2 separate regions of the Homo sapiens genome follow, and region 2 is linked to region 1. A link means that fine-mapping ties the variant in region 1 to the plasma level of a protein whose gene starts in the linked region. Region 1 holds a variant in brackets. A gene starts in the other region. All regions are shown on their reverse strands. Region 1 overlaps LAPTM4B (lysosomal protein transmembrane 4 beta). Region 2 holds the start of TACSTD2 (tumor associated calcium signal transducer 2).

The links. PIP is the chance, under the fine-mapping model, that this variant and not a neighbour inherited with it causes the effect. Protein levels are from antibody-based Olink assays in UK Biobank. Linkage for the fine-mapping came from a reference panel and not from the study's own genotypes, which makes the PIPs less certain.
Region 2: it holds the start of TACSTD2, and the variant in region 1 is fine-mapped to the plasma level of the TACSTD2 protein (UK Biobank, PIP 0.98).

What each region holds. Positions count from the first base shown.
Region 1 is chr8:97,780,854-97,783,872 of GRCh38, reverse strand. All of the region lies in intron 1 of LAPTM4B (lysosomal protein transmembrane 4 beta), which reads right to left. Among named protein-coding and RNA genes, the nearest start is that of LAPTM4B, 6.6 kb to the right of the region's middle. RefSeq lists an enhancer at 853-1,361. The variant AT/T (reference allele first, on the strand shown) is at 1,524.
Region 2 is chr1:58,575,850-58,578,349 of GRCh38, reverse strand. It overlaps TACSTD2 (tumor associated calcium signal transducer 2), which reads left to right and starts at 1,098. Exons shown (of 1, transcript NM_002353.3): 1 at 1,098-2,500. The coding sequence starts at 1,194. The coding sequence ends at 2,165. RefSeq lists enhancers at 940-1,634, 1,635-2,330.

The DNA of each region.
Region 1 (3,019 bases):
GTGGGAGTCACAGAAATAAGAAAACTCAAAGGAAGGGCCAGATGGTTTAAGTTTTAATGTCTTTCTGAAGTTACAGAAAGAATAGGGGTTTAGATCACGGCAAAACAGGTTATGGGAGGGAGGGACGGAAAGGCCTGGCTAGGGAAGGTGGTCTTGTTATGCAAATGAGACCCCACAGGTAGAAGGCTTGAGAAAAGATACTTGGTAGCCTGTGGTATGTGGTAAACTTCTCTATTAGACCTTCAAAGGTGTCAGACTCTCAATCTCTCGGTTAATCTTTCCAAGGTCTGAACATGGGGGATGGGGTGGGGAGGTGTGCTCAGAGAAAGCCTGGCTGTTTATTTCACTAATGCAGATTTTCCCTAAAGATGCAAATCTCCACAAACAGCAGCTTTTCAGAGCTATTCTTGTTTGCAGTTTCTCTAATACTATCTTGAAATATACCAAAGAGGTATATTTTGGGTGAGATATTCTGGTTTCCTTTACTTGAGTAAACAAGGAAACTGTGAGTTTCTATGTGAACAAGTGGATTCTTTGAAAGACCAGGTCTGCACTTGTATCCCAGAACTTAAAGTATAATTAAAAAACAAAAGAAAAAGAAAGAAAGAAAATTAAAAAGAAAGACCAGGTCATAAAGCCAATGAAGCAGCTACTCTGACCTCTTTTATCCTTTATAATCTGATATATGGCTAACTACCCTGTGAACAGTGTCTGGCACAGAGGCATTTGGTATGTATTTGCTGTGTCTAAGTTCCTAAAAAATAACTGAACAAGGATATTTAAAAAAAAAAAAAAAAAAAGGCCGGGCGCGGTGGCTCACACTTGTAATCCCAACACTTTGGGAGGCCAAGGCGGGCAGATCACCTGAGGTCGGGAGTTTGAGACCAGCTTGACTAACATGGAGAAACCCCGTCTCTACTAAAAAATAAATAAATAAATAAATAAATAAATAAATAAATAAATAAAATACAAAATTAGCCAGGTATGGTGGTGCATGCCTGCAATCCCAGCTACTTTGGAGGCTGAAGCAGGAGAATCACTTGAACCCAAGAGGCGGAGGCTGCAGTGAGCCGAGACTGCACCACTGCACTCCAGCCTGGGCAACAAGAGCGAGACTCCGTCTCAGAAAAAAAAAAAGGCTGGGGACGGTGGCTCACGCCCGTAATCCCAGCACTTTGGGAGGCCGAAGCAGGTGGATCAGGAGGTCAGGAGTTCGAGACAAGCCTGACCAACATGGTGAAACCCCGTCTCTACCAAAAATAAAAAATTAGCCAGGGATGGTGGCGCATGCCTGTAGTACCAGCTACTCAGGAGACTGAGGCAGGAGAATCGCTTGAACCCGGGAGGCAGACGTTGCAGTGAGCTGAGACTGCGCCACTGCACTCCAGCCTGGACAACAGAGTGAGGCTCTGTCTCAAAAACAAAAGCCTGGAGTGGTGTGGAGTGGTGGTGTGAGCCTGTAGTCCCAGCTACTTGGGAGGCTGAAATGGCAAGGCTGCTTGAGCCAGGGAAGACAAGGCTGC[AT/T]TGAGCCACTCCAGCCTGGGCAATAGAGTGAGATCTTGTCACAAAAAAAAAAAAAAAAAAAAAAAAAAAGCTGGGCATGGTGGCTCAGGCCTGTAATCCCAGCACTTTGGGAGGCTGAGGGGAGCAGATCACCAGAGGTCGGGAGTTCGAGACCAGCCTGACCAACATGGAGAAATCCTGTTATCTACTAAAAATACAAAATTAAACAGGTGTGGTGGCGCATGCCTGTAATCCCAGCTACTAGGGAGGCTGAGGCAGGAGAATTGCTTGAACCTGGGAGTCGGAGGTTGCGGTGAGCCGAGATCGCACCATTGCACTCCAGCCTGGGCAACAAGAGCTAAACTCTGTCTCAAAAAAAAAAAAAAAAGTCCCCAAAGTCTTGTGCAAGAATGTTCAGTGCAGCTTTATTTATAATAGCCCCAAATTGGAAATAACCCAAATGTCCAATATCTGGCAAATGGATAAACAAATTGTGGTATATTAATACAATAAAAACAATACTCAGCAATAAAAAGCAACACTCCAAGAAGATGAATGAATCTAAAAGAAGTTATGCTAAGTGAAAGAAGCTAGATACAGAAGGGTACACACAGCATAATTCCATTTTACATGAATAAGCAAAACTTACCTACAGTGATTGGGGATATGGCAGGGATTAACTGGGAAACAGCACAAGGGAACTTGCTGAAAGTTTGGAAATGTTCTCAAGGAATGTGGGTTACATTACAGAGGCATTTGTCAACTCAATAAACTACATTTAACTGTGAATTTTGCCGGGCACGGTGGCTCACGCCTGTAATCCCAGCACTGTGGGAGGCCGAGGCGGGCGGATCACCTGAGGTCAGGAGTTCAAGACCAGCCTGGCCAACATAATGAAACCCTGTCTCTACTAGGAAAACAAAAATTAGCCAAGCGCAGTGGTGGGTGCCTGTAATACCAGCTACTTGGGAGGCTGAGGCAGGAATCACTTGAACCCAGGAGGCGAAGGTTGCAGTGAGCTGAGATTGCACCACTGCACTTCGGCCTGAGCAATAAGAGCAAAACTCCTCAAAAAAAAAAAAAAAAAAAAAGGCCGGGCACAGTGGCTCACGCCTGTAATCTCAGCACTTTGGGAGGCCAAGGCGGATGGATCACAAGGTCAGGAGTTCAAGACCAGCCTGAACAACATGGGGAAACCCCATCTCTACTAAAAATACAAAAATTAGCCCGGAGCTCACCTGTAATCCCAGCTACTCAGGAGGCTGAGCAGGAGAATCGCTTGAACCCAGGAGGCGGAGGTTGTGGTGAGCCGAGATCACGCCACTGCACTCCAGCCTGGGCGTCAGAGCGAGACTCGGTCTCAAAAAAAAAAAATTGTAGTACATAAATCACAACTCAATAAAAGAAAAAAAAAGAGACAAACAAAAAATGATCTCTAGAATAAATACCTGAAGTCTCCCAAAGTTAGCGTGGCCCAGAATTTTAAAAATAGTAATAATAATAATAAATACCTGAA
Region 2 (2,500 bases), not on the chromosome of region 1:
TTTACCACAGCTTTGAAACTCTAGACTTTCTCAATGACTCAAAAAGAGATTGCAACCCCTGTATGCCATGAAACTAGCCACACAGTGGCAGACAAGCAATTTCTCACAGGCTCCATTCTTTCATTATTTACATGGTTCAGCTACTTACGTGGGATACAGGAAAAGAAAAGCAACGATTTGCTGTGTTAGAATCAAATTGTACAAAAAACTCTTTACAGTCTTGCTGGCTCTTTAAGAATTTGTTCCTGTTTGTCTCTTTATAGCCAGTGCACAAATAAATATTATGTGCGTGTGTGCCTGTGTGTGTGCGCTTGTGTGAGGTACAGAAAATTAGTGTTTAACAGAACTTTTAACCCTCTGGACACCAGGATACCTGTGTTTTACCCTTGATATGGTGAGTAACAGAACTGCTTCCCTAACTTCCCTTCAGATTCTGTGTCACTTCGTGTCCACAAACACTTTATTTAAGGTCTCATCACTCCTAGGCAGGGTGCCAAAGACCCCTCTCAGAAATATGAGGAAGTTGATAGCAGTGTGACTTCAGGTCTTTAAGCCTCATCAGTACCACCTATAAAACGGGTCTGATAGTCCCTACCTGTCAGGACTGGTGTTAGGATGAGATAATGTTTGTGAACTGTAAACTATATAAACGTGTGCTACTGTGAGAACTGGACAAAGAAGAGAGGGAGTGAGAGAAATTAAGGGAGGGCTGGGGCTGGGAAAGAACGAAAAGGGAGTCGCGTATAGAGGAGAGCGCGACAGTCGCGAGCCACACTTTGCAATGAAACTCTTTAGACTTTCTGCCGGGAGAGCGGCCCAGACGCGCCAGGTCTGTAGCAGGAGGCCGCGCCGAGGGCGGGTCCCCAGAAGCCTACAGGTGAGTATCGGTTCTCCCCTTCCCGGCTTTCGGTCCGGAGGAGGCGGGAGCAGCTTCCCTGTTCTGATCCTATCGCGGGCGGCGCAGGGCCGGCTTGGCCTTCCGTGGGACGGGGAGGGGGGCGGGATGTGTCACCCAAATACCAGTGGGGACGGTCGGTGGTGGAACCAGCCGGGCAGGTCGGGTAGAGTATAAGAGCCGGAGGGAGCGGCCGGGCGGCAGACGCCTGCAGACCATCCCAGACGCCGGAGCCCGAGCCCCGACGAGTCCCCGCGCCTCATCCGCCCGCGTCCGGTCCGCGTTCCTCCGCCCCACCATGGCTCGGGGCCCCGGCCTCGCGCCGCCACCGCTGCGGCTGCCGCTGCTGCTGCTGGTGCTGGCGGCGGTGACCGGCCACACGGCCGCGCAGGACAACTGCACGTGTCCCACCAACAAGATGACCGTGTGCAGCCCCGACGGCCCCGGCGGCCGCTGCCAGTGCCGCGCGCTGGGCTCGGGCATGGCGGTCGACTGCTCCACGCTGACCTCCAAGTGTCTGCTGCTCAAGGCGCGCATGAGCGCCCCCAAGAACGCCCGCACGCTGGTGCGGCCGAGTGAGCACGCGCTCGTGGACAACGATGGCCTCTACGACCCCGACTGCGACCCCGAGGGCCGCTTCAAGGCGCGCCAGTGCAACCAGACGTCGGTGTGCTGGTGCGTGAACTCGGTGGGCGTGCGCCGCACGGACAAGGGCGACCTGAGCCTACGCTGCGATGAGCTGGTGCGCACCCACCACATCCTCATTGACCTGCGCCACCGCCCCACCGCCGGCGCCTTCAACCACTCAGACCTGGACGCCGAGCTGAGGCGGCTCTTCCGCGAGCGCTATCGGCTGCACCCCAAGTTCGTGGCGGCCGTGCACTACGAGCAGCCCACCATCCAGATCGAGCTGCGGCAGAACACGTCTCAGAAGGCCGCCGGTGACGTGGATATCGGCGATGCCGCCTACTACTTCGAGAGGGACATCAAGGGCGAGTCTCTATTCCAGGGCCGCGGCGGCCTGGACTTGCGCGTGCGCGGAGAACCCCTGCAGGTGGAGCGCACGCTCATCTATTACCTGGACGAGATTCCCCCGAAGTTCTCCATGAAGCGCCTCACCGCCGGCCTCATCGCCGTCATCGTGGTGGTCGTGGTGGCCCTCGTCGCCGGCATGGCCGTCCTGGTGATCACCAACCGGAGAAAGTCGGGGAAGTACAAGAAGGTGGAGATCAAGGAACTGGGGGAGTTGAGAAAGGAACCGAGCTTGTAGGTACCCGGCGGGGCAGGGGATGGGGTGGGGTACCGGATTTCGGTATCGTCCCAGACCCAAGTGAGTCACGCTTCCTGATTCCTCGGCGCAAAGGAGACGTTTATCCTTTCAAATTCCTGCCTTCCCCCTCCCTTTTGCGCACACACCAGGTTTAATAGATCCTGGCCTCAGGGTCTCCTTTCTTTCTCACTTCTGTCTTGAAGGAAGCATTTCTAAAATGTATCCCCTTTCGGTCCAACAACAGGAAACCTGACTGGGGCAGTGAAGGAAGGGATGGCATAGCGTTATGTGTAAAAAACAAGTATCTGTATGACAACCCGGGATCGTTTGCAAGT